3 linked regions of the Homo sapiens genome follow. The protein of the gene in region 2 interacts with the protein of the main gene of each other region in a pairwise test. Each region holds a gene or a part of one and is shown on either strand. Other genes may lie near its edges. The genes, in order: ZBTB1, HEMGN and KAT6A.

Evidence for each region.
Region 1: the proteins of HEMGN (region 2) and ZBTB1 interact in a two-hybrid assay, tested with the Homo sapiens proteins (one study listed by BioGRID).
Region 3: the proteins of HEMGN (region 2) and KAT6A interact in a two-hybrid assay, tested with the Homo sapiens proteins (one study listed by BioGRID).

What each region holds. Positions count from the first base shown.
Region 1 is NC_000014.9:64,519,247-64,527,907, reverse strand, and holds the end of ZBTB1 (zinc finger and BTB domain-containing protein 1), read right to left. Parts: intron 6,422-8,661; 5' UTR 6,404-6,421; coding exon 4,262-6,403; 3' UTR 2,957-4,261; downstream 1-2,956.
Region 2 is NC_000009.12:97,932,237-97,944,509, forward strand, and holds the start of HEMGN (hemogen), read right to left. Parts: upstream 5,937-12,273; 5' UTR 5,901-5,936; coding exon 5,822-5,900; intron 4,029-5,821; coding exon 3,935-4,028; intron 1-3,934. UniProt on the Homo sapiens protein: Regulates the proliferation and differentiation of hematopoietic cells. Overexpression block the TPA-induced megakaryocytic differentiation in the K562 cell model. May also prevent cell apoptosis through the activation of the nuclear factor-kappa B (NF-kB).
Region 3 is NC_000008.11:41,935,459-41,943,987, reverse strand, and holds part of KAT6A (histone acetyltransferase KAT6A), read left to right. Parts: intron 1-8; coding exon 9-240; intron 241-987; coding exon 988-1,195; coding exon of another isoform or gene 1,196-1,207; exon of another isoform or gene 1,208-1,939; intron 1,940-2,543; coding exon 2,544-3,146; intron 3,147-6,419; coding exon 6,420-6,732; intron 6,733-8,529. UniProt on the Homo sapiens protein: Histone acetyltransferase that acetylates lysine residues in histone H3 and histone H4 (in vitro). Component of the MOZ/MORF complex which has a histone H3 acetyltransferase activity. May act as a transcriptional coactivator for RUNX1 and RUNX2.

The sequences.
Region 1 (8,661 bases), on a different chromosome or scaffold from region 2:
ATAGTCATATTATTTTTAATCCCTACTCATCTCACCTATAATTTTCAAATGTTTTTTATTCAATTTTTATATCCTGTTCATATATTTTTCAGCTACAGTAAAACATGATTTTTCGTGTGTATTATTATCTTTTTTTGAGATGGAGTCTTGCTCTGTTGCCCAGGCTGGAGTGCTGTGGCATGATCTCAGTTCACTGCAACCTCCACCTTCCAAGTTCAAGAGATTCTCCTGCCTTGGCCTCCCAAGTAGCTGGGATTACAGGTGCGCGCCACCACGCCTGGCTAATTTTTTTTTTTTGAGATGGAGTCTCGCTCTGTCACTCAGGCTGGAGCGCAGTGGTGTGATCTTGGCTCACTGCAACCTCCATCTCCTGGGTTCAAGCAATTCTCCTGCCTCAGCCTCCTAAGTAGCTGGGATTACAGGCTTGTGCCAACATGCCTGGCTAATTTTTTTGTATTTTTAGTAGAGATGGGGTTTCACCATGTTGGCCAGGCTGGTCTTGAACTCCTGACCTCGCAATCCACCCACCTCAGCCTCCCAAAGTGCTGGGATTACAGGCTTGAGCCACTGCGCCTGGCCTAACTTTTGTATTTTTAGTAGAGGTGGGGTTTTGCCATGTTGGCCAGGCTGGTCTCGAACTCTTGACCTCAGGTGATCCACCCACCTTGGCCTCCCAAGGTGCTGGTGCCCAGCCTCTACTTTTCCTTTTAATTAGTGTCCTGACTGCTCTAGCAAACTTTTTTTTTTTTTAAATTATTAGCCCCTCTGGGATCCTTTCTTCTAATTGAATTTTTGTCCATACTCAAACTGTTAGTTTGCCATATACCATTTAACCCATGTGCGTCATTTCTAATTTTTTTCAGAGATGGAGTCTCACTCTGTCACCCAGGCTGGAGTGTAATGGCATGATCATAGCTCACTGCTCCCTTGAACTCCTAGGCTCTATTGATCCTCCCACCTCAGCCTCCTGAGTAGCTGGGGACTACAGCTGCATGCCACCATGCCCTGCTAATTAAACAAATTTTTTTTTTAGAGATAGGGTCTTGTTATGTTGCCCAGGCTGGTCTGGAACTCCTGGACTCAAGCAATCCTCTTGCCTCAGCCTCCCGAGTAGCCGGAACTACAGATGCAAACCACCACACCTGGCCTCTGAATATTTTTACCTTAAAAACATGGGGGAGATGAAGACGCATTTCTGAGTCCTAATCTACTGCTGCCTTGGTTGTGCTCTATTAATTTCTGAGATTCTTAGTCCTGTTTACTAAGGAATCGTAGAACATGCAAGTTGTATTGTACTATAGTTGATGGCAAGCTTGCTAACCATTCCTCTGGGTTTTCTTGCTGTGTAGAATAAAAGGGCCAAAGCAAAAGAGTCTCATGGTGTTCATGAGACAGAAAGAGAATTTGATTCCACTATATATCTGTGTAGATTCTCCTTTCATTTTTAGATTTGGAACCTGAACACCTAAGTTACAAAGGCAGAAGATCTGGCAGCTTCAACACACTTGTTTCATTACCTTCACACCCAGGGAGGGCAAGAAGCAACAGCAAGGAATGACAGCTCTGCAGCTCTGCCCCAGGAGAGGAAGGAGATATTAGGGAACTGGGCTGGGGAAAAGTGCTGGATATTTTTCATTCTCCCTAATTTTAAAAAGCAAGTAGTCTTTAACTTTTTGCCTTGATAAGAATTGTACATTCCACTCTAGAGAAGCCTGTGCTTCCCTGTAGCTAGCTCCAAAACAAAAAGGTATGTTCTGTGTAACATGAAACTCAGAAAAAAAAATTGAGGTGGCCGGGCACGGTGGCTCATGCCTGTAATCCCAGCACTTTGGGAGGCTGAAGCCGGTGGATCACGAGGTCAGGAGTTCAACACCAGCCTGGCCAAGACGGTGAAACCCTGTCTCCACTAAAAATACAAAAATTAGCCGGGCGTGGTGGCATGCGCCTGTAATCCCAGCTACTGAGGAGGCTGAGGCAGACAACTGCTTGATTCTGGGAGGTGGAGGTTGCAGTGAGCCAAGATTGTACCACTGCACTCCAGCCTGGGCAAGAGTAAGACTCCGTCTCAAAAAAGAAAAATAAATAAATAAAATAAAAAATAAGTTGAGGTATGGCTTTCTAAAACTATAAACATCTCAGTCATGTAAAATTAGAGAGTAAAGTTTATATATTTGCTTGCTAATTGTTAGCTGTTAGTACATATCAAAAGACTAAATTAAGCCCCCTTCCTAATGGAATAGATAATCGTTTCTTCAAAAAGTGGTAGTATTTAGAAAAAGCCCTATTCTTTAACAATGGGGAAAGCCACTGCAAGAAAAATTTTGATGAGTCACGAAAAAAGTGATCTCAAATAAATTATGTCCATTATGATACTATATACTGTAGTTTGGAAACTTGGTTTATCTGATCTCTTTATACCACTCTCTGATGGTCTCTGGGTTAGAGAACTTTTATCTGGTTCCTATCAGTAATATACATACCACATTTCATTTTAAGTTGGATTTCAAATTTAATTACTTGATAAACTATTGTATCTAAGTAAGGGTAAGATGAATCACTTTTCCTGCTTTTGCTGTTAAATTTTTAATTTTTGTGTGTATTCTACCCGTCCCCTGCCTACTTCCCGTTATTTGAATTCTGCACTTGGTTCCTGTGCTGTTCCTATCCTTACTTAACACTTCAACATATCCCCACAAATCTGAGCTCACATGGTGCTCTAATGCTTTCAACTAAATCTGTACTCACCAGTATGTCTCTCAGTTCTTTTGGCAACTTGTTCTTTTATGTAAATTGTATACAAAATATGATTTGCATATTTTAAATATGATGTGAACAAAAAGAGCAATGCTATTAGTGTTCAGAATCACAAATTTATATTTTTAAAATTAGGAGTTAATTAAAATCCCTTTCATTATGAAAAGGGTACTACATTGCAAGTAATTCACATTAAAAGGCATTCTATTCAATAGATGTGTTTATTGGTGGGTCAGTTTTGCCAATGTTTTAATTCACATGTAATTATGTAGACCCTGTGTCAGCAACAACTAACAATACTACTACTTTAACTGAAAAAATGATAAACTGTTTCCATTGATATACTCTGTGATTATTTTATAATCCTCAAGTTTTATAGTCTTTTACAGAAAAAAATGATAATAAAATATGGCGATAAACTGCAATTTGCCACATTTCCTCCAAATCTTAGACAGTATAAAACACAAGACATTTTTTTGTGCACTCTACTTTTATAGAACAACCAGGTTTATAATTGATCTCTTTATTTTATTAGATTTATCAATATACATGGAAGCTTTCTCAAATCTCAAAGTTCCAGAAGTATGTATTGTAAAAAATCATCTTTTCCTTTAGAGGTCATATTCTTAGAGAGCTATTAAAGTCTATTTATAAACAAAAATAATTGATAAGCTAACACACTTTAGAAATCAGAATATTTTAAATTAAAATATTTTTAATGAATACAAGATATGTCTTTTTAATTAACTATCATAGTTAAATTTAATATCACAAAACAAAATGGCTTATCCCCACTAATTTTTCAAGTGAGGTAAAGCCACTGGAATTTACACTTAATATAAGTTTTAAATGTGATAATTAAATGATAATATTTTATCAATTATAGGAAATATTCATTTATAAAAATTTCCTCAGGTTCATCAATCTTTTTAGGCCAAGTTTGAGCCCATGTCAACCTTAAAGGTTAGATTCAGTGCACCTAACTTGCCTAATAAGCTTGTCAATTTAAGAATATGAATTTCATTAATAAGGGGGAATAAAGAGTAGTTAACTCACTAAAAGCAAACGGGATAGTTTCAAATAATTACTTAAGGAATTTTTAAAATTTAAACAGAAATGGCCAATGATTCTGGGTTTAAAATTTCACAGGATAACCTTAAAAAAAAAAAAACACATAGAAATAGTGAAGTCATCACCTTATTGATGAAAAACTAAAGTTTAATAGTCATTGAATGGGTAACAACCACTTGTAGTCTACATTTAAAAATTTTAATCATAGCTAAGAAAAACTAAAAACAAATAATTCTATTAAGAAACAACAAAAATGATAAACATTTAATACCTAAATGTAGATACTTAAAATCCTAAACAAAAATATTAAAGTTAAAAGGGCCTTGAAATTTGTTTCTAACAAATCATCTTATATAATCAATTCCTAAATAGCTCATATCCTTTGCTTTGGTGTTTTATCTGCTATCATCTAAACATTAGTACAGTAGAAAATCACTCAGGTTCTTTTCAAATGCTTGGCATTATAATGTGATCTCATATCTTTCCTCAAATTAAATTTTGCTCCACATATTCCACATGTATACAGATGAACATCCATGTGCTGCTCCAACTGTTCATTATTTGGGAATATCTGAAAGCAGACCTGGCATATAGTCTCACCAGCAGATAAATGAGAAATCATATGCCGTACATGGTCATGTTTTCTGAAGTTTCCTTGATCACAAATGGAACAGACATACCTGGCCATGCCTTTGTGCATATCATTGTGCAGTCGCAACTGACGCTCTCTTAAAAACTGCTTTCCACATGTTTGACAAACAAACTGTTTTTCCTTAGTATGAACAGTATAGTGTTCTCTTAAGTGACACCGCTGATAAAATCCTTTTCCACACAGATTACAAAAATGCTTTCGTCTGTGATCTCTTTCATTTTCTTCCATGATGGCACTCTTAAACATATCTTGATCTAAGCAGCTAGACATATGTTCAACCACTAGATTTTCAGTTTCAAAACGCTGGCCACAATTAGGACATCGAAAAGGGCAGGCAGAATGTTTAAATAACTGCTTTTTTTGGATACTGTTTATCTGGTAATGATTGTCCCTAAAATCATCCAGCATTTCAACAAACATATCTCTTATTTCGGACTGCTCATCAGGATTCTCTTCCAAGTCCATTTTCTCCTCAGTATTTCCTAACCCATTCATGGTCAGATCTTGGGGCTCGCCACATCGTTGAGCATGTTCCTGAAGCTGCCTACCCTTTACAAGTATTTGTCCACATTTACCACATGCACAGATATTTTCAATGTGTTTGGCTAAGTAATGAGATGACAGGTCCTCCTCGGTTATTGTAAGTCCACACAGCTCACAAGATGCATTTTCAGCATCCTCTTGTACTGGACTGCTGTTGTTAGGGGGCCTCATATTCTCTAAACCACCTCTTTCATCAGCACTTACTGACATTCGAGGTTTTAGAGTTTTCCTACCACTTTTTTTTATGCTGACATCTTCTTCAACATAGTATCTATAAAATGGCTCTTCAGGTTCATCTTCTAATTCATCATTGTCAGTGGATTCATTACAGTCTTTATCAGTAACTTTAATAATGTTAAAGTCTTTCAGTTCATCTGTAGGAATATCTTCTGGCTCCATCTTAATAATAATCCTTTTCCTCTCAGCAGCTCTGCTTTTCTCTTCGCTTGCTATTTCAGACTCCACTGTGCTACTTTTTCTGCTTCCAGTGGTTGAAGCTGAATCATCAGCAGCCTGGCTTGTGTCTCCTCTGTATTTGTCCGTCTGTGCAGAAAATGTTTTGGAAGAATCTTTTTCACCAAATTCAGCTTTGATGTTACTGTCTTTTCCATCTCTAATATCTACTATTCTATGGTAAGATCTTGTGTTTTGGTATAAATGTCTGTTAGTACAGGTTAGCACATGCTCATCTAATAATTTTTCACAGCTAAAGCCAAATCCACAGCTATCACAGGTAAAACTCCGCCCAAAGCGTCTTGACACACGTTCTTTTGGAGTAGATAATTTGGACACGGAACTTTTTTTACATACATCAAATAGTGGCTCAGGAAAATTACCTAATTGTAAAGACTCTTCATCAGCCTCTCTATTATGTGGTGTATTTACCGTTGAACTTGGCTCTGCACACCACCTGTTGGCTTCATTGCCATTTCGAGCCACAGTATCTTCATACATTCTTACCCCAAATATCATTTTGCTGTTCTGTTTGCTGGAAGCAGAAGAGGAACATTTTGAACTAGAACAATCTGCATCCTGGATGTCTTCTAAACAGTCAGGAACATTGTATAGCTGTAGGTAGTTCATTGCCACTTTAAACTGCTCAAAACTGGAGGGAGCTGTCATAATTTTTCCTAAATACATAAACTGCAAAATGAGATCAAAACATTCTGCACTAATTTTCATGTTGCTGAGATTCAGTTGTGCAGTACTATGCTGATGGTTCATGAAAAACATTCTAAAATAGGAGCTACAGGCAGCTAGAACTGCCTTGTGTGCTTGAAAGTAAATGTCATCAATTGCAATACAGCAGTCACAGAGAAAACCCCATTCTCTTTGGTTGTTTAGCTGCTGAAGGACATAGCTGCTGTGGCTGGGCTTTGCCATCTTCTGTTAATTAGAGACCTATGTAAAACAAAAATATTAAAGTCAAACAAGATATAGAAAAGCACTTGACAAAATTAACTTTTATCATGATTTGTGACTTGCATGACTGCTATTACAATCAAGAAATTAAGAGCTTTCCATTCTAATAAAACTCAATAATATATACTTGAATCATTTTTTAAATTTGAAGATGAAGACATCCAGCCATTTATTCAGGCTTTTCATATTGAACAAAGGCATCAAAAGCAAAAGACAGTTTTAGTTTCATTACAACTCTTGGGGGGAACATGTACACTAAATTTGAACAGAAAAAAAGACATTAATTTAAAAATACTTGAAGGAGGCCGAGTGCAGTGGCTCACGCCTGTAATCCTAACACTTTGGGAGACCGAGGCAGGAGGATTGCTTGAGCTCGGGAGTTTGAGACCAGCCTGGGCAATAGTGTGAGACCTCTTCTCTACAAAAAAGTTTAAAAAATTAACCAGGTGTGGTGGCATCACCTGTAGTCCCAGTTACTTGGGAGGCTAAAGTGGGTGGATCACTTGAGCCCGACAGGTAGAGGCTGTAGTGAGTTGCGTCACGCCACTGCACTCCAGTCTGGATGACAGAGCAAGACTCTGTCTCAAAAGAAAAAAAAAAAAAGAAAACAACTCTTGAAGGATATGAGTAATGAAAGTAAATAAAACAGCAACTTAAACTGAAAGTTAACAATTAGATTGTAAAGTATGAAAAACTTATTAAATGATTAATACTAAGGAGCTATTGCTCATTTTTTAAGTGTGAGAAAGGTATTTTGATTGTGTTAAAAAGAATCCTTATCTTTTGGATATATATACTTTAGTATTTACAGATGAAATGATACATCTGAGATATGCTTAAAAATAAATGGGGTGGGTGTGGGGAGCAATAGATGATACAAGATTGGCCATGTGTTGTTAAAATAATCTATTTTAAAAACCCTATTAAGCCTGGGCAACATAGCAAGATCTCGCCTTAAAAACAAAACAAAACAAAACAAAAAAACATTAGCCAGGCATGATGATGCACCTGCAGTCCCAACTACTCGGGAGACTGATGCAGGAGGATGGCTTGAGCCCAGGATTTTGAGGTTGTGGTGAGCCATGATCACGCCACTGTACTCTAGCTTGTGTGACAGAGTGAGACTCTATCCCAAAAATAAAAATTTAAAAAAACCTTATTAGGGCTGGGTGTGGTGGCTCACACCTGTAATCCCAGCACTTTGGGAGGCCGAGGCGGGCGGATCACGAGGTCAGGAGATCGAAACCATCCTGGCTAACACAGTGAAACCTTGTCTCTACTAAAAATACAAAAAAAATTAGCCAGGCGTGGTGGTGGGCGCCTGTATTCCCAGCTACTCAGGAGGCTGAGGCGGGAGACTGGCATGAACCTGGGAGGCGGAGCTTGCAGTGAGCCGAGATCGCACCACTGCACTCCAGCCTGGGCGACAGAGCGAGACTCCGTTTCAAAACAACAACAACAACAACAACAACAACAACCTTATTAGATTATATAGAAATGGCACCAAACAAGTTTGATCAGTGCCTTTGTCTTTTCTTGAATTATCAAAGAAGCAATAATTCTATAGAGTTAGAATGTGTCTCATGTTGCTCAACATGCATTTCAGGGTATAAAGAAGCAGTGGGTTTATTTGAGAAGGTATTTTATTTATCCTTAGAGTGTAAAGTTTTCTTCCTTTTTTTTTTTTTGAGGCAGGGTCTCGCTCTGTTACCTAGGCTGGAGTGCAGTGGCATGATCATAGCTAACTGCAGCCTCAATCTCCCATGCTCAAGCAATCCTCCCGCCACAGCATCCAGAGTAGCTGGGACTGTAGGCACATGCCACCACATTCAGTTTTTTTTTGTTTTTTTTTTTTTAATATTTTAGTAAAGACAAGGTCTTGCTATGTTGTCCAGGCTGGTCTTGAACTCCTGAGTTCAAGCGATCCTCCTGCCTCGGGCTTCCAAAGTGCTGGGATTGTGGGTGTGAGCCACTGCACCTGGCCTCTTCTATTTTTTTTTTTTTTTAATTGTTAAAAGAAAAAAGTAAGGCTGAGCGCGGTGGCTCATGCCTGTAATCCCAGCACTTTGGAAGGGTGAGGCTGAGGTCAGGAGTTCGAGACCAGCCTGGCCAACACGGTGAAAACCTGTCTCTACTAAAAATAAAAAAAGTTAGCCAGTCGTGATAGCGGGCGCCTGTAATCCCAGCTACTCGGGAGGCTGAGGCGGGAGAATCGCTTG
Region 2 (12,273 bases):
AGTCTTTGGAGATAAAAACCAGTGTTTTTTACATCTTTATAGTGCCCATCGTTCCTTGCATATTTAAAAAAAGTATACCCTGTTCCATTTTTTGTGTATGTTTGAAATTTCCGTTGTAAAAAAGTGTTTTTAAAAGATTACCTCACCAAACACAGTTTGAAGTCAATACCAAAAAAGTATATATGTTCACTTCTAATATGAGGCTATAGAAAAAAAGAAAAAAAGGTATAGATGTAACAGAGCAGTCTAAAATAATATTGAAAATTATATTTAAAAAAGGAAATCTAGGCCGGGTGCGTTGGCTCACGCCTGTAATCCCAGCACTCTGGGAGGCCGAGGCTGGTGGATCACGAGATCAGGAGTTCAAGACCAGCCTGGCCAACATAGTGAAACCCCGTCTCTACTAAAAATACAAAAATTAGCCAGGCATGGTGGTGCGCGTCTGTAATCCCAGCTACTTGGGAGGCTGAGGCAAGAGAATCGCTTGAACCCAGGAGATGGAGGTTGCAGTGAGCTGAGATTGTGCCACTGCACTCCAGCCTGGGTGACAGAATGAGACTCTGTCTCAAAAAAAAAAAAAAAAAGGAAATCTAAAGATGATGGTTATGGCACCTCAGCATTTTGAACTATTACTACAAGTAACCAAGGTGACAAGATAAATCATAAAATTCTGATAAATTTTTTGAAAAAGATATTAATAGTAATCCAAGTTCCTTAGGAAACACATATTTTTTCCTAGATATTAAATCCTAAAGAAGTTGTTATTTAAATCTCTGTATGAGGAGATCTGAGTAATGTAATAGTCCATGTCTTCCCAGGTAGTTTTTCAAAAAATGCAAAAAATACCTATGTGGCCTAAACTTTAGTCTGTACTCTCTCATGGTTGTGGGCAAGTCACTTAACCTCTACATGCCTTGGTTTCCTTGTAAGTGAAATGAGGTAAATAATATCGGCCCAATTTCATGTGGTGGTTATAAGAATTATATATAATAACTTACATGAATGAATTATTCAAATATAAATTAGGACTCATATGAATACAGGAAACACTTATAGTGCTTGTATATGTCAGGCACCGTTTAAATAATTTAGTTATTTTGTTATCTCATATAATCTTCACATCAGTCTATGAAGTAGGTAGTTATTATTTTCATTTTGCAAATGACAAAACTGAAACACAGAGATGTTGAGTAACTTGCCCAACACTTGTATTTGATAATCAAGCCATATACATTATCCACCTGCAGGCTGCACAGATAAGGAGCCGTGCCTGGATTGCAGGTCTAGAAACCCTGAGTATGAGTTTACTCAGGGGTAGTGAAGTAATACACACAGACTAAATGCAAAGAGACTAGTATATAAACCAGAGTGCCAATCTATTCGTTTATAATGAGAATTATTTATTTTCCATAATATTTCCAAGGGCTCTGGCTACCAAGTAGGGGAGCCAGGCTACGAATCTAGTCATTCTGGCTTTAACAGCCAGGCTCATAACCATGCACTCTGCTGCCTCTCTCTGAAACTAATAAAGTTTCACTGTATGGTGTGTTGTAGTGAGAAAAGAGGGCACAGGCCTTAGCATTATAGAGATGTATCACCAGAGCAAGTCCAGCCAGCTGCCAAGAGGCTCACTAAGGTGTTATCCATTTGAGTGAATACCCTCAGCCCAGCAAGCCCAGAAACCTGATTCTGTTAGCACACTGAGACTACCTCCATTTATCAGGGGCAGAGCTCATCAAGCAGATTTAAGGAGACTGACATATAAACCTAAAGACCAATTTTTAAATGAACAGACATACAAAGTCACATAGTAGAAAATACCTGGACTGGCTGGGCACAGTGGCTCACGCCTGTAATCCCAGCACTTTGGGAGGCCAAGGTGGGCGAATCACTTGAAGCCAGGAGTTCCAGACCAGCCTGGCCATCATGGCGAAACCCCGTCTCTACTAAAAAATACAAAAACTAGCTGGGCGTGGTGGCCAGTGCCTGTATTCCCAGCTACTTGGGAGCTGAGGCAGGAGAGTCACTTGAACCTGGGAGGCAGAGGTTGCAGTGAGCCGAGATTGTGCCACTGCACTCCAGCCTGGGCAGCAGAGTGAGACTCTGTCTCAAAACGAGTGAATGAATGAATGAATGAGAGAAAGAGAAAAAAGAAAAGGAGAGGAGAGGGGAGGAGAGAGGAGGGGATGGGGGAGAGGAGGGGGAGGGGAGGGGAGGGGGGAGGGGAGGGGAGGAGAATACCTGGGTTCTGGGCTCCCAAACAAATGCACCGTCTCTGTAGATAAGTACTTGGGAAGCCAAGTAATGATTGGAAGATTGCTTAGTGGTATGGAATTTGGGAGCTAATTGGATAATCTTCAATAGACCTGCCACAGGACCCTAATACAAATATTTCTACTGTAAAATGATACACGTGTTCCTAAAAAAACCTCACTTTCTGCAAAATCATCCTCTATAAAGTTACAGTGGTTATGGAGGTGGGGCAAATAGGCTTGGGACAAATGATTCAAAACCCTTGCAACATTTTAACACTAACTAAAACAATAATTGGTACCAGGAGAGAGAACTTGGATGGTCTAGACAAGCAGTTTACTGTGGCTGGAGGCTGCCTCAGGGGATAGTAAATGCAAATATAGTGTAATTGCAGGCTTGAAGCTGCTGAGACCTGAGCTCTGAGCCAGCGGGGTTGCCGTTAAGTTGGGCACAGGAGGGAAGTGCAAGCTGCCACTTGATGGAGAGCTGCGCAAGGCTGGTGTTGTGCCTCTCTGAGGAGGGAACCCTGGATGCTGGCTGAAAAGAATCCTGCTTATACAACAGCCAAGCTGAAGGCTTTTTCTTTCCAGCTGAAAGCTTTAATTCTCTTCCCACTATTCTGCTTTCTTCTGACTAGGAAAAAATCATGAACCAACACAACCCCCACATTATACTGACATCATTCTCCTATTTATCAATCGTATGTGAACTTGGTGTTATAGAAACATCTGTTGTAGCAGAACAGACAGTGCTCAGTCCACAGCGGGGTTTGGGGATTGGAAAATGCCCTTTCTTAGGAAGAGTGCTTTGCTTAAATTAGTGGTTCTCAACTGGGGATGATTTTGCCTGTCTTCCCCCAACCCCACCCCAGAAGACTTTTGACAATGTTTGGAGACATTTTGTTGTCACAGCTGGGGTGGAAGGTGCTGTTGGCATCTAGAGGCCAGAAAATGCTACAAAACATCTGCAGTGCACAAGCCAGCCCCCCACACAACAGGAAGTTCTCCTGCCCCCAGTGTCAGCAGTGCCAAGGTGGAGACACTTTGGCTTAGATGGATGCTGCACTTTTGGCTCTTTGGGCTCCCCTTCCAAGCAAGCAAGTCCCCAGTTTCCACAATCATATTTGAAATGGATGCAATTAGATGTCGCCTAATTTACAGTCATGTTATTGTACCCCCTTCCTGCATTTACATACAGGTGAACATACAGGTTATCTAAACTCTTTGTCACTCATTTACAGCGAATGTTTTGGCTTATTCCATGGAGAGTTAATCACACTCATTCAGTAAAGATTTAGCTAATAGAAAGCTTGGCGAACAATCTTGGAGGCTTCTTCAATGATGTTTCCCACTCCCAACAGGATGCTTCTATGTTTATATTACCTAGGAGCTAAACGCCAGGCTTCTCTACAATATAATTCGGTTGCTCAGTGCTTTAATTAAAAGAGACCAGGGAAAAAATTCTGTTCCCACCATTTTACCAGCTGTGTGTGTGACTTTAGGCAAGAGGTGTAACTCACTGGAGGCTTAGTCTCTGTTTTTCTGTAAAATAGGGATAACCATGTCTGATTTACAGGATTGTTGGAAAGATAAAATACAGTGTGTAAAGTGCACAGCACTACTTTATGCATAACATCCTCAATAAATATATTAGTTCCCTTTCCCTTGTGATGCTACCATACCCAAATAGCCATTGTGATGTTTCCTTTTCATGCACTTCAGCTTTTCTTTTTCTAAGTAGTTCTCTGTTTCTCAAACTCCAGGTTCCAATGACTTCTGTAATAAAATGAAAGTGATTAGAAAAAGTGATGAACTGTGGTGTCTATCAGCAAAAGTCCTGTAGCCAAGTGGCAGAGTCTCTGTTCTAGGTTTTTCTCCTAGCTTTTTGAGGACAAGGACTGCATCTCATTTATCCTTGTATCTCCAGAGAAAGCCTGGAAGCAGACATTCAGCAAATGTTTTTGAATGAAAAGGTCAGAGACCTACTCCTACATAGTATTTGTACATAAGTGTGCTACCAACCTATTAATTTCTTCAAAGTAATTTTATATATTGTACAAATAATGAAAAAAGTAGCCATATTTTGCTGTCTTTAACATGATAACTTGTTTTCATTTTATTCCTCACTTCTATCCAGTCTTTATATTACACAAAGTTGTAAGAATAGCATACCACAATTTTAATCTTTTTATTAAGCTAGCGTTATATTAGAACTATTTTCCATGACGTAGTCTTCATAATGATAATTTTAATGACAATGTGATACATAGTCTAGTTGATGTACTCTCATTTACCCAATCATTCCTCTTGGATTGAGCATTTAGATTGTTGCTAGTTATCTTTGCCTTGTATATCAAATTATAATAAGCATATTCATTGCATATAGCTTTTCTTTGGTATTTTTTCCTTAGAACGGTGTTTTTTCAAGTTCTTTGGAAAATTAAGGGTTTGATCAAAAAAGTTTCTGCTGCTGTCTAAGGTTGAGAAAAATTGATGAGTCTTTGATGCAGAGCTTCCTAGAGCCTGTGAAGTGATACAAATCCACACTGGGACCTCTAAAGAATAGAGCATGCCCCTTGAACCATGGTGCCTCTTGTTCTTGGGATAAGGGTTCTTAATAGGAAAAATTATATCTTTATTTTTACCAACCTCTAATTAAAATTGACAGTTCCTTCAATTATGAATGTAGATAACAAACCACAGTAGTTTTGGCAGTATATGACTTTTTTTTCAACTTTTATTTTAAGTTCAGGGGTTCATGTGCAGGATATGCAGGTTTGTTACATAGGTATACATGTGCCATGGTGGTTTGCTGTGCAGATCATCCCATCACCTAGGTATTAAGCCCAGCATCTATTATCTATTCTTCCTGATGCTCTCCCTCCCCCTCAGCATATGACTTGGTCCCTATAAAGAAATCACATATTTTTTTATCACATTATAGTTGTTGCAGATACCTTAAAATATCACCTACTGGCTATGACTTATTTGACTTGATACTATTATTAGACCCACCACTGGATATTGTAATCTATAAATAATCATATATATTACTATATAATAATTTTTTATTTTGATATTTGTATCTTAATGTAATTATTCCCTTTCTAGTCTTATATATTTAATTTTATGCCTTTAAAAATTTTATTCAAAGAAGGAGTCTCTGGGTTCATCAGAATGCCAAAGAGATCCATGTAGCAAAAAAAATTTAAAACAATGTCTTAAGGTATCTCAAGGCCTAAGTTTCCACAAAACATTTTGAGAAATGTTGCTTTAGGATAGATCCAAGGACTGAGATTAGTGAGTCAAAAGAATAAGCAGTATTATAGCTCTCACCACTTATTGCCAGATCTCTTTCCAAACGTTAGACCAAATTTGTGCTGCCATAGAAATGTATGAATCCACTTGTTTTACCACAGCCATCGAATGAAATTATTGGATGAACTAGTCTCATTAGCTTTCATTTATTTCCTTTTTTTTTTTTTTTGGCCAGATCCATTGAAAAGAGAAAATTATCATACCCCGAATTCTTCTCAACAGCCACCAGCTCTTAAGGTATTTTTCATTACCTGGAGAATGGTTCTCTTCTTGATGAGGGTCAGGTGTCTGATGGTGCTTCAAATGAGATTGGTCCTTTCCCAAATCCATCTTGCTGCAATACCTTCCTGCTATTTTGGTCTGACTTCCACAAGCAGCCTAGATGCTTTTTTAAAATATCAAAAACATCTAACACTTAAAAAAAAAAACCACACACACAAGTTTGCCTGTCACTTGACTTCCCGCCTAAAAGTTTTATCTGGTTGGACCACAACTGCAGGCTAATTCTACTATCTTTATCACACTGCACAGGTGTGAGTAGGGGAAATGGCTGGTGCTAGCAACCCCTAGCATAGGTTGCTATTTATACAGGGAAACTCTCTGACCACAGCCTGGCATGGCACAGCCTCTAGTCAGCACTCTTTTGGTTCTATCTGCCAGGAAGTGTCTGGATCCGATGTTCCTTTTTACAGATGGAGGTAGCCTAGTGTAGAAAGAACACAATCTAGGCCCCAACCAGCTCAGTGGCCCAGGGCAAGTCACCTCCCTTTTCTATGACTCTCTGCATTTGCAAAATGGGTAAATAATTCCTGTCTTGCCTACTTCATACGGTTCTTGTGAAAGTGAAAATAATAGATATAAAAGTTTCTAGAAAGTGTGATATATATTAATCTTACATGGTTTCCTGTATGTAGCTTTTTTCACCTTAATCTGTTGCAAAATAATGTACAGTTTTGCTGTGTATGCTGTTAGACTTAGTTAAGAAATAGACATAAAGAACCAAATTAGAATTTCACAGCAATTTTGTACCCTTTTTGGCTCACCAAATCATTCGCAAGTGACTCAAGATAACTAGTGAAATCCATTGTTACTCATATAGGGGAAGGTGAAAAATTACTTCTTAATGAAAATATCACCACATTATATCCCAGAAATTAAGTTGAAATAATCAAAGGAACCATCCTATCTCCAAGCAGTAACCCCATTTGTGAAGACAAGGAGCCACAGACTACTATGGTTCAACTAAAGAAGAAACCCTGAGCACCTCCTGATACAGGAAGCCAGTCTGGGAGATGCAGGATTAATATATGTGTTCTGGATTCAGATTGAATTGAAGTGAGTTTGAATTCCAGTGTTGACATTCCCTAATTCAGTGACCTGAGGCAGGTTAGATAGCCTTGGAGTCAATTTACCTATCTATAACATGGGGACAATATTGGTATCTACCTCAGAAAGTTACTGGGATGATTAAGTCCAGTAATCCATATGAGGCATTTTATGTGTGCCTAGCATATTGAACTTGGTCAGTAAATGTTAGCTACCAATAAAAATACAGTAACCAGATTTTGGTAAAGCAAGTCATAGTTTAAATGCACTAAAGAGAGAATCTGAAGAGGATTCTTTATAAAGAAAGACCTTTGTAATGTGAATAGATACCCACTACTTCCATGGAGTCTTAAGGCATTAGAACTGGAAGAGCCCAAAATCATCTAGTCCCTGCCTATTTTGTATACAAAGAAACTGAGAACCGAGGAGGAGAGTTACCTATACTTAGTATTTTATTACTTATTGCCAGCAGCATCTCTTACAGATTAGGAGATGGGTCATCATTTTGTGTGCTTGATCTTTCCTGGGTATAAAAATGTGTGTATCATGTAAATATATTAGAGAAACAAGCTGTCAAACACACTAAAGGGTATCGAGAATGATATAACAAACACCCAAGTATCTGCCACTAAAATTTAACTTGGTTTTTAATTACTAAACCCTAATATTTAGCTTTACCTCTCTCAGTTCCCCAGTCCTTCTCTTAAGTAAATCTCTGTATCTAAAAGTTCAGGTAACTTCAGGGAGCCCCTGCTCAAAGGAATCCTGCACGGAACAGCAGGCATTATTTGCTTGAAAATTTTGGATTTTCAGATATGGGGTTTAAATAACTCAAACTAACTTTAAAAATTACAAAATAGTGTTTTTTTAAATATTGGTCCCTTTAGTTGATATGTTTTAATTCTTATTAGTTAGGTTGTTTCTTACATTAGGATAGTTTAATAAAATAACATTATAGAATCCCTCTGGGACACCTTCAGTGGATGCAGAGGTACTTCTTGAATAAAATTGTCCTTACTAAGAGCTTGTAACACCCAGTTCAACAATTCAGCAAATTTTACTTAATGCCCCCTCTTGTGCTGTAGAGACGGATGGTGCAGTTCCTGAGCCCTGTGCCCTGTAGGCTCATAGAGGAGAAAGTGTGTACATCTGTATTGCAAGGAAATAATAGATTCTTTATATCCTGCTACAACCTACCTAAGTCAATTCCACCCCTGCCCCATGTTCCCTGTATCTAGAAGCAGAGTGTGGAGGGACTGTAAGAGGGTGGGGTTTCAAGTTAACAGTAAATTGAAGGTAATATTGGGTGGAGGAGGCCAGTGGAGAGACACTTTGGAGCAAACTAGATTGGAAGTCAGGCAAGGTGTCTCTGGCATGATAAACAGGCCAGAGTGGGAATTTGAGACAGAAGTAGCCTACAGTAAGTTTACAAGCCACAGTTCATGGTCCCTTCTCTCTGTAGAAAATTCTAGTTAGAAATTTAGTTAGAATTCTCTAACTAGAATTTCCAGAATGTGTGTTAGGCATTAAAGTCCACATATTTTTTGACAAATGCTGCCTTGTTCTAGAGTTATTTGCATATATACATAAACCTCTCTCTAGGCCACAAACCCTTAGAGAGCAGATACAGCTCCTGATTCACTTTTCTGTCTCCACAGTATGATCCGGTGGGAGGCTTGGCTCACTGTAGTCCCCATAATCGCCCTCACTCCCTGCTTCATGAACATGCAGCCTGGGACAGTAATTTATACACTCAGGGCTTGATGCTGCTGTGACTTAATAATAGCAATATCATCATCTGTGTCAGAGCTCTTTCTACTGTCATTCATTCTGTGCCCAGCGCAGTCCTATGTGTTAGAGATAGAGTAATTGAACAGCAAAGTCCCTGCCTTTATGAAACCTACATTTTAATGGGGAGAGATAAACAATAAGGAAATAAATAAAATATATAATGTGTCAGATGGTGATAAGTGCTTTGGAGAAAACTGAGCTGGGCATAATAGGATAAGAAAAAGGAGGTTGATGGTGGCTGCTATTTTAAATAGTGTGGTCAGAGAAGGCTTGACTGATAGGGTGACAGGTGAACAGAACTGATGGAGGTGAGAGGCCAGATATGCCATGCTGATATCTGGGAGGGCATTCCAGGTATAGGGGCACCAGCAAATGGCCCAAGGAGGGGAGTGTTAAGGAGGTGGGATCAGAGAAGAAGCCTATTATTGCCCCTTGTAGGATTTCTACTCTGAGTGAGATGGGTAGTCATGGCATGGTTTTGGACAGAGGAGTGATACGATCTGACTTACATGTTTAAAGAATTATTCTGGCTACTATGTGGGACAGGGGCAGAGGAAGCAAGAAGAACAATCAGAATGGTATTGCAATGATCCAGATGAGAGATAATTAAGGTTTGGATGATGGCAGTGGTGAAGCCATGGTCAGATTCTGGATTAACTTATAACTTGAATATGGGGTGAGACATAAAGAATCAAGATAAAGATTTGTTGTGAACAACTGGAAGGATGGAGTTAGCATTCACAGATCAGGAAGATTGGGAGAAGCAGGCTTGGAGGAGATGATCAAGAGTTTCATTTTGGATGTGCTAACAGGTTAGGGAGAAAACAGCAAAGGAGCAGCCAGTGAGGCAGAGGAAAACTGGAAAAATATAGTGTCTCGGAAGCCAAGAGGAAAGACTGTTTCAAGGAGGAGAGACTAATCCACTGTGTCAAACTTTGCTAAAGTAGAGGAAGGATTGAGAATTGTCCTAACAATTGATTTCCTAACAATTCAATTCATTTAAATTAATTATAGATTATGGAGGTGAAGTAACTTGGCCAAGGGCATGCAGATGAAACCAGCTATATAATTTTTGGGGGACCCATGGCAAAATGAAGACAGAGGGCTTCTCCTTCAAAAATTGCTAAGAATTTCAAGATGGCTATAGCAGAAAATTAAACCTAGCAAGTGTTTCACAAGTGTTTCATTGGATCCTTGAAGCAGACTTATAACATAGCTATTATTGTCCTCATTTTTCTGATGAAGAAACTGGTGCTCAGTGCATTGAGTGATATAACTAAGATCACAGAGTGAGACTGGTAGTTCGCACCAGAAGCTGGGCCTTCAGCCTCCAATTCCCTCTAATTCCTTCTTTTTTTTTTTTTTTTTTTTGTTTTTGAGATGGGGTCTCACTCTGTTGCCCAGGCTGGAGTGCAGTGGCACAATCACAGTTCACTGCAGCCTCTACCTCCCTGGGCTCAGGTGATCCTCCCACCTCAGCCTCCCAAGTAGCTGGGACTACAGGCATACACCACCATGCCTGGCTAATTTTTTGTATTTTTTTTGTAGAGATAGGGTTTTGACACATTGCCCAGGCTGGTCTTGAATTCCTGGGCTCAAGCAATACCCCTGCCTTTGCGTGCCAAAGTGCTAGGATTACAGGCATGAGCTACCAAGCCCAGCCTGGCCCTCTTCCTACTAGAACAAACTAGGTATTGAGGGAGAGAGTTGCTTTCCTGCTTCCTGACCATCTGGAGCAGGTGTAAGTATTGAGAATTTGGTCATACATTTCAGAGGCCTGACTGAACTGGGCAAATGAAGGAGGGAGGAAACACATTGCTGAAACTTCTGCCCTAGGGCCCTTTAAGATGGGGGTGAAAAGGGAGCACAGGAAAAAATAGCTCAGGCCATGTACTGGATACTGTTTAGTCAAAAACAAGACGGGGTAAAAGTGCCCCAAAGCTAACGCCATTTAAGGCTATATTGATAAAAATTATAGCGCCTCCAAAACCAGAGAGATGAGAGCCCTGGTACACTTTGGTTTGTCATGCCATAGTCAGAGAGCCATACTGTGAAGACCATATTATATGAAAGCATACACTGAAAAGAATGAGGGGTACAGGGCTCTATCATTTTCCTGGCTGGGTAACTTGGGGAAAATCACTTAATTCTTTCTGATCCTCAGTTTCTTCCCTTGTAAAATAGAGAAAGGTAATACCTCATGGGGATTCTGTGAGGATAAAAGAGATCATGGGAGCTTTTTATAAAATGAAAAACACGGCAGATATAAGTCCCATCAACCCGGACAGTGTTGATAGTGATATTAGAGTGTTCTAATGATGCACCTGGGCAATTTCCTAAAATACATTTGGGTGGAAAAGTCATGGAAGGGAACACAATGGACACTTGTTTTTCTTAGCATTCCTTCCTTGCTGACATACTTTTTCAAAGCTTTTAAATACTTTTCAAAGACTGGATCAAGCTTTGCTTTCCTAAGTGGAGAAGGAGAAGGACAGTTTCTTGTTCCCCTCTCTCTCAGTCTGTTGATGCATGATAAATGACTTCTGTCTGCTAAAACAGATGCTGCTGTACACATATAGATAACATGTTCTATAACTTAGAATGGCTGTAGCCTGCCTTTCAATCTAGTTTGTCCCAAAGTCCCTCCTCTGGAATCCTCCCACAAATGCTCCTTCTGTTAGAGTATAGACAAACATCTCTGAATAAACACTGATGAGTGGTCATTTATCTGGGGAAGAGCAATTCTGGTCCCACCTTGAGCCTCCCCCTTATCCCTGTCCTTTCATTTCTGAACTTCTTGAACTAGTAATATATTCTCAGTGTCTCCTTTTCCCCCTACACCATTTCATTGCTTTGCATATGTAATCTAGCTTTTTCTTTCACTCATTCTCTCATAAATCATCAATGATTTCCTAATGGCCAAATCCAGTGGTCCATTCTCAGTTCTTCTTTTTTGACCTCTCTGCAGCTTATAATTCCTCTGAGTACTCCTATCCTCCATGAAATTTGCTCCACTTTTGGCCTCTCTGATGGTGTGGAGCCTCTCTGATGGTGTGGTGTTCTCACCTCTCTCTCCCTTCTCCTCCTCCTTGCTCACAGGCTTCTCTTTCACTCCCCTAGGTATGGGAGGTGTTTTCCAAGAGTCCCTGATCCTTTTGAGTTAATACTCTTACCCAAAGACAGTTGATCCAACTATATACTTTTAGCTACTACCTCTTTGCAGATGTCTTCTAAATAAATATGTCTGAGTTCTAAGATCACATTTCCAAGTGTTTCTTGGTTATCACTTATTAGCTGGATGTCCCACTGCACCTCAAACTTAGCATAACTAAAAGCAAATATATGTTCCCCCCTAAAACTAGGCTCCCTGTGCTTTATTTCTGTTAGAATAGTAGTACCATGCCTGGCCATCTAGTTCTTAGCCTTCAGAAGTCTCTTTGACTCTGCCTCTTCACTTTGTCTCTCACATTCAGCTAGATACAGTTCTGCCAGTTCTTTCTTCCCAGTGTCCCACATGCTCATTCCATCTTTTCCTGTCCTATACCACCATCCCAGAGAGGGGCCTCAACTTCTCATTGGAAGCATT
Region 3 (8,529 bases), on a different chromosome or scaffold from region 2:
TTCTTTAGGTTATTTGTTATCAAAGCGTGAAGGCCAAGCAGGGTCTCCAGAGAAACCGTTATCTGATCTGGGTCGTCTTTCCTACATGGCATATTGGAAAAGTGTAATATTGGAGTGCCTTTATCACCAAAATGACAAGCAGATCAGCATTAAGAAGTTAAGCAAGTTGACTGGAATCTGCCCTCAAGACATCACTTCCACACTCCACCACCTACGAATGCTGGACTTCCGTAGTGACCAGTGAGTATCACATCTTTTTGTATACCTTTGAAAGATAATTAGGTTGAAGTTTTTTGGATCAGCCAGTCAGATTATTGATGAAAGGGCATTAACTAATATAAATGATATACTTGGTGATAATGAGATATCATTTTCCTTTCTAGGATATTTTATTTGATTGACTATATATATGGTCTATATATAGTCTATATATATGCTTTTTAAACTGAATTGTTTTTCTGATACCCCTAATTTTTGGACCTAAGCTACTGAATCTTTCATCTTCTAGTATTGGGAGCTCTTTCACAATACAAGAAGTAACCACTCTAGAAACAGTCATTAAATAAAATGCCCATGTTAAATTTTCATATAAATGGCACAAAGTAAATATAGATTGAAAGGAAGAACAGACAGTTCACCCTTCACTAAAGTGGTCAGAAAAAGGTCACAAAGAAAGGAGGCATTTGAGCCAAATAAATGGAGAATAGGAAAGAGAGTGCAGAAGAGCAGCAGAACTTCTGGAGCGGGACGTGTGAGACAGCAGGCAGTGAAAACAGCCCGCGGCCACGGTAGAGAGCGAAGCATTTGTCCTGCTTCACACTCCTGGCCGTCTCATGTGGTGGCACATTTCTGCATTCCATCGTCCCAGGCAGGCTATCTTTGCAGCACCTATCATCTTACATGCTTCACCAGGGGTCTCATCTCCACATTCATTTTTATGTACACCTTGTACATTGTTGATTGCTATAAACTTTTCTCTGGTTCCAGATTTGTGATTATCCGCCGGGAAAAACTTATCCAGGATCACATGGCAAAGCTTCAGCTGAATTTGCGACCTGTAGATGTAGATCCAGAATGTTTGCGCTGGACTCCAGTCATAGTGTCCAACTCTGTGGTCTCAGAGGAGGAAGAAGAGGAGGCTGAGGAAGGAGAAAACGAAGAGCCACAGTGCCAGGAAAGAGAATTAGAGATCAGTGTAAGGGCATGAATAGTCTCTATTTTTGATGACAGAAGATATATTTTTGATTTCATGAGTATTTATAATAATGTATTATGATCATCTTTCACAGAAAAGTAAATTCACATTAGAATGTCAAGAGTTTTATTTCAGTGGTAGAGATTTCAAGAAGACTGGACCTGGTTTACTTAAGTATTTTTAAGCCTTGGACAATTAGGAGGAGACCATCAAATTTCTTATAATGTGTTACTTGTGAGAAAAATATTTGTTACCAGGGTGCCAAGAAGCAGCTCAGTTTTAAGCTGGATAGTAGTTGAGAAATCTGAATTGAATCCAAATCTGACAGTTTTTAAAAATGAAATGGAGGTTGGGTGTGGTGTTTCATGCCTGTAATCTCAGCGCTTTAGGAGGCCCAGGCGGGAGGATTGCTTGAGATTAGGAGTTCAGGACAACCAGGGAAATATAGTGAGACCCCATCTCTACAAAAAAAACCCAACAACAAAATGAAATGGAGATACATTTTCCTTAAATAGAATATTAAGTAACTATTGTAAACTTGTGTATGTTTTCTGATGGGGCACCAAAACATCCTGTGGACACACAGATCTCTTTAGCCGTTAAAGGGTTGCTGGTGAACTGTAGTGCATGTGTCATTGTCAGTATTTTTCTTCATGTGATGCATACTTTTATAGCTCTTTTTTTTAAGCAGTGCTTCATCCTTTCAACACCGGTATCCTCCTTTAATAAACATAAAAAATCCCATGCCTCTCTTTAGTGCAGTTTAATTTTTCAAAATGAAATTATTCAGAATAAAAGTAAATTTAAAAACTACATAAACTTTCTTTCATATTTCTCAAATGCCTCCTTCCTCTTGCCCATGTCTCAAGATCCTGTCTCCTCCACCCTGTTTACAAATTTTTATTTCTGAGAAATTTTATTAAACAATCTCATTTAACATTTAAAAGAACAATAGTATTCACTTTGCTTATTGAGGGTGGTACTGCAGAAAGATTCAGAACATAGGCTCTGGAGTCAGACTGCCAGGCTTTCTATCCCAGCATCTTCTCTTGCTCTTGCGTGACCTGGGGCAGATTACTTAAATTTTTTTCTACCCCACATGCCTCATTTGTAAAGTGGAGTTGTAGTGGTAATACTTCATATGATTGTTGGGGAGATTAAATAAATAATGCATATACAGAATTTAAAGCAGTGCTGAAACAGGAAATATCCATGTTAAATAACTGATCATTTTCTTTTTAAAGCTCAGTTTCCTTTTCTTCTCTCAATACTTAAAAGGTCAGAATAGGTAAATGTAAGCAAACAAGACTGAAAAATTAACCAGCATTGTTTTATTTTCTAAAATCAGGTGGGAAAGTCTGTGTCTCATGAGAACAAAGAACAAGATTCTTATTCAGTAGAAAGTGAAAAGAAACCAGAAGTTATGGCTCCAGTCAGTTCTACACGTTTGAGCAAACAAGTCCTTCCTCATGATAGTCTTCCTGCAAATAGCCAGCCATCTCGGAGGGGCCGCTGGGGGAGGAAGAACAGAAAAACCCAGGAACGTTTTGGTGATAAAGATTCTAAACTGCTCTTGGAAGAGACGTCTTCAGCTCCTCAGGAACAATATGGAGAATGTGGGGAGAAATCAGAAGCCACCCAGGAACAATACACTGAAAGTGAAGAACAGCTGGTGGCTTCTGAGGAGCAGCCAAGCCAGGACGGGAAACCTGACCTTCCCAAGAGAAGACTCAGTGAGGGGGTTGAGCCCTGGCGAGGACAGCTCAAGAAAAGCCCTGAGGCTCTGAAGTGCAGATTAACAGAAGGAAGTGAGAGGCTGCCCCGTCGCTACAGTGAGGGTGACAGGGCTGTCCTCAGGGGCTTCAGTGAGAGCAGCGAGGAGGAGGAGGAGCCGGAAAGCCCTCGGTCAAGCTCGCCACCAATTCTCACAAAGCCCACGCTGAAGCGAAAGGTAACGCATTTCTTTCCAGGTCTTCTCTTCCTCCAATTCCAGTTTATCTTACACCTTCTCGTTTTAGCTTACAGTTCTGAAAGAGTATAAGTTAGAAATTCCTAGTGCATTGCTTTATAAACCTTAAGCCTCTGTATATTGTAGCTCAAGATCTTCCCAGTGAACATTTGAGATGTGTGTGTGTGTTTGACTTCTTTGATTCATGGGAATTCACTTAGAAATCATAAGCTTATTTAAGGGCTTCACCTCCTGGGATGCAAACAAACTTTTTTTTAGCTTACTGGTTTGATGTTCAAATCATGACTTTTAGGGGCTTAAAGCCCTAAAATATCTTTAAAAGATATTTTTAAAGTATGTACAGATTAGAAGTGTTTATATTAGAAAAGGAGGCCAAAATATTACATAATTAATTGGAAAGTGAACATAGTGCTGCCCTATATTTTGGGGTACTCAGAGTACAGTAGCTCATCTTGGGTGCTATTGTTTTCTCTCTACTCTCCCCACTTCTCACACATCCCTCCAGTGGTTTAACGTGGTCTCTCTTGCTTTAAAAATATTTTCTAAACTATATTCCATCATAATGATAGCCAATTAGTTATTAAATAATGTACAATGATGATAATGAATTCTGTTAAGCCGTTTACCAGAAACATCCCAGGCTATGGAGTGGATTTTAAGCATTGCCAGGAGGCAGCCAGACTGAAGCGAGGCTGCTCCCTGGAAGAGCCACTCAGCCAGCTTCCAGCCAAAGCAGCACAATCGTTCCTTTCCTTACAGGGTCTTAAAAAGCAAGACAGGATCTTTTGTTTTGTTTTGTTTTGTTTTAAGAATAATATCTTCAGAGCAGTTTTACATTTACAGAATTAATGCAAAGAAAGTACAGAGAGTTCTCGCATACCCCAGCCAGTTTCCTCTATTATTAATCCCTTGCGTTGGTGTGGTACATCTATCACAGTTACTGAACCAGTGTAGATACATCAGTAACTAGAGTTCATACTTTATTCAGATTTCCATAGTTTTCCCTAACGTCCTTTTTCTGTTCCAGGATCCCACCCAGCATATCGCATTACATTTAGTAGTCATGTGTCTTTAGGTTCCTCTTGGCTGTGGTAGTTTCTCAGAATTTCCTTAGTTTCGATGGCCTTCATAGTTTTGAGAATGACTGGTCAGGTATTTTGTAGATGATCCCTCATGATATTAGAATGGGGTAATATATTCTTGAGAGGAAGACCATAGAGGTAAAGTGCCATTCTCATCACATAATTAAAGGGTACCTGTTGGCATATATCTATCAGTATGTATAGGGAAGCTGGGCATAGTGGTCACTCTTGTAATCCTAGCTACTTGGGAGGCTGAGGCGGGAGGATCACTTGAGCTGGAGGCTGTAGTGCACAATGATTGTACCTGTAAATAGCCACTGTAGTCCAACCTGCGTGACATAGCAAGACTCCGTCTGTAAAAATAAAAAGAAGCAAGTATCAAATATAAGGGTATTATCAATTTGATTTTTCCCTATTGAAGTTAACTTTGATGACCTGGCTTAAGATATTGTTTGTCAGGTTTCTACTTTTCTTTTCCCTTTACTGGAAGGAAGTCACTGTGCATAGCCACACTTAAGATTTCTACCCCCTCAGAGTGGAGGCTCAGCATAAATTATTTGAATTTCTGCTTGGGAGATTTGTCCTTTCTCCCTCATCTGTTTATTTATCCAAGCATTTATTTATATCATTATTGGCCCAGATATTTACGTGATACTTCACTTTATAATCCAATACTACTGCTTTTTAAAATTTGTTGCTCAGATTGTTCCAGTTTTGACCATTAGAAGCTCCTTCTTTTAGTTTCCCTCTTGGGCTGCTGCTGCTTTTTTTTTTTTTTTTTTTTTTTCCTTCCCCAGATGGGGTCTTACTCTGTCACCTAGGCTGGAGTGCAGCGGCATGATCTCAGCTCACTGCAACCTCCACCTCCTGGGATGCAAGCAACGCTCCCACCTCAGCCTCTTGAATAACTTGGACTACAGGCATGTTCCATCACGCCTGGCTAATTTTTTGTACTTTTGATAGAGACAGGGTTTCGCTATGTTGCTCAGGCTGGTCTTGAACTCCTGAGCTTGGGCGGTCCACCTGCCTTGGCCTCCAAGGTGCTGGGATTACAGGTGTGAGCCACCGCGCCTGGCCTCCTGTGTTTAACATATATACTGTTGTTGTCATTGTGGGGTCTTTTTGTTTGTTTTTAAGCATTTCCTTTCTGGCACTACAAGATGCTTCAAGTTCATCTTGTATATTTCATGCCCTTGTCCTAGAATCAGCCTTTTCTCCAAGGACCAGGGCCATTTTTAATCTAATTTGAAAATTACATTCTCGATTGGGACTATTAAGTTTGAAGTAGAGAAAAATTGAACATTGACTAACTGCTGTTCATTGCATGATCATGAAGAATAGATCTTTGTCATCCTAGCACTTGTATTGCCAATTTATGAAGTAAAACAAATCATGTTAAAAAAAGAAAAAGAACAGGCAGTAAGCTCACATGCAAAGTAATTTTGAAGTTAATGAATAAATGCTTTGACTGGATGTGTGAACTTAAGCAAGTCCTATACCCTCTCTGACATCTATAGAATGAAGGGATTGGATTAGATAATCTCTGGGGCATCATCTCTTATTTTGTGATATTAGTTGTATAATTTTAGCTATTTGGTCAGTCCAGTGCAAAGTTGTGCTCAGTGTGCCCAAATTTCAGTAACAGATTTATTTTACTTTTGAAATATTTCACTAACACTGAGTAAATACATTTCAGCCCCATATTTCTACATTCCACAGCTTTTTATGAGTAGTTCATGAAAATGGCATACAACTTTACTGATAGTTCTGCAAACCTTCACAGTAGTGCTATAAGACAAAGTGTTTTTATTTCTCTTTTGCTCTTAAGTTGGAAAAGTTAAGGGATTAGCCTCTGGGTCAGTTCAGTATTAAAACAGGGCAACTCTCTAGGGTGCTAAATTTAACTGAACTATTAAGAGAATTATAATGTCTGCTATTTGGAGATGGCTGCCTATTCTTTTACAAAGTTGTGTTCAATTGCCTAATACCTTTGTATTTATAATAAGTGTATTATCTTACTATAGTATTTTGAAATAATATTCAAAATATTTTTTGGCAAACAACATCCTCATTTTATATGTGCTAATTCTATTTGGTTTTAAAACTGTTTTCGTATTATTAATAGAAAAGATAGTGTTCATAACTGTAAATACTTGCTTTCTCTATTAAACAGAAACCATTTCTCCACCGAAGGAGGAGAGTCCGAAAGCGCAAACACCACAATAGCAGTGTAGTCACAGAAACTATTTCTGAGACCACTGAAGTGTTAGATGAACCTTTTGAAGATTCTGACTCCGAGAGGCCAATGCCAAGATTAGAACCCACGTTTGAGATCGATGAAGAAGAGGAGGAAGAGGATGAAAATGAACTTTTCCCTAGAGAATACTTCCGTCGTTTGTCTTCGCAGGATGTACTCAGGTGTCAGTCCTCTTCTAAGAGGAAGTCTAAAGATGAAGAAGAAGATGAAGAGTCAGATGATGCTGATGGTATGTTTTACAGAACTCACTTACTGTGGTTTATTGTCTTCAGATATATAGCAGTAGCAGTGACAGACCCTTCAGTAAAAAGGCTGAAAAATGAACACAACCCACTAAGCAAGAAAAGGAACGTTTGGCAATCTCTAAAAAGTTGTATCAAGTATATCCATCTTGATTTTTAAATGTGTTTTCCCTTCAACTCAGAACCTCTATTAATTTGCCTCTGCAGAAAATATCTTACTATTAGGCAACTGTTCTTTTTTGCCCAATCCTTTCTAAGCCTTTATCAGAATCTTTAGTTAATGGGAGAGTTGGACTTAGCATCAGGAAGATGTAATAACCCTTCACTAGAATGTGCATTCTCTAGACTTAGTCTGTTTTGCTCATTGCTGTATGCTGAGTGCTTAAGCCCGGCGCTCAGTAAGTAGTGTTAAATGAGTGAATGCTAAGAAGACAATTCTCCAGAAAGAGCAGATTCATGTAAATTGGAACTTGTGTCACATCTGTTCAGGAGTCTTTCCTGAATTGTATCTCTAATGTGTCTTACCCAACTAGTAGTAAATTTCTCACAAATGGTAACAATAACTCAAAATAAATTTTATAGTATAGATACAAATCCAACTATTTACTTTTAAAGCAGCCTAGTTGTCATTTCTTCTCTAGAGACACTGAAACTAGGTCTCATATATATGAGCCAGGTCAGAAACAAGTCTTTTTCACCCTAGCCTAAAGTTTTGCCAGTGTCTCATGCTGCCTGCATCTGCAGTGTGTTTATCTCGCATGGGCTCAGAATGAGCATTTTTACTTTGTTGGGCAAATTTGAAGAAATCTACTTGTCCAGTCTTGGTACATAAACCTTTAGCTTTTATGCATTAACTGGTTGAACTTTTTAATTCTTTTAAAAATTCAGTCAGTTTCAAGTCTAGAAGATAAACTTACATTTTCTCCATTCTCATATTTTCTATATAACAAATACTTTTTTATTTTTTATTTTTTATTTTTTTGAGATGGAGTCTCCCTCTGTCACCCAGGTGGGAGTGCAGTGGCACAGTCTCAGCTCACTGCAACCTCCACCTCCGGGTTCAAGCGATTCTCGTGCCTCAGCATCCCAAGTAGTTGGGATTATAGGTGCACGCCACCATGCCTGGCTAATTTTTGTATTTTTAGTAGAGACGGGGTTTCACCATGTTGGCCAGGCTGGTCTCAAACTCCTGACCTCAAGTGATCCACCCGCCTTGGACTCCCAAAGTGCTGGGATTACAGGTGTGAGCCACCCTGCCTGGCCAACAAATACTTTTAATATAGTGATAAGATGAATGTGTTCTTTGCTCTATCATGAATGATTCTACAGAGTTTAACTTGCTATGTTTTGAAATAACATAACTAGGAAACTAAAAATTTATTTTGTAAATTTAGCACTTTATATTCTGTCTTAGATCATTGTACACTAAAATAGTACCCCTGATTAAGTTCCCATGGACTTAGATTTTTGCTGATGCAGCCATTTCCTTTGTTGACTTTCAAGTTACTACTACTAACTGTGCCTTTTTAGCCGTGCCCCCACTGCATCATGTTCTTGTCTTGGTATTCTTATTCTTTAAAAATTAATAGGCAATGTGAGTGTACTTAATGCCACTGAACTTAACACTTATAAATGGTTAAAATTTTAAGTTTTATGTTACGTATAGTTTACCATAGTTTTTTTAAAATGCTAATAATATAAAATTTATTTCTAATGAATGTAATTGGTGCTTTAATTTTTTCTTGTTTGTCTAAGTCTAAATGTCAGTTTTTGTCTAGGACTAA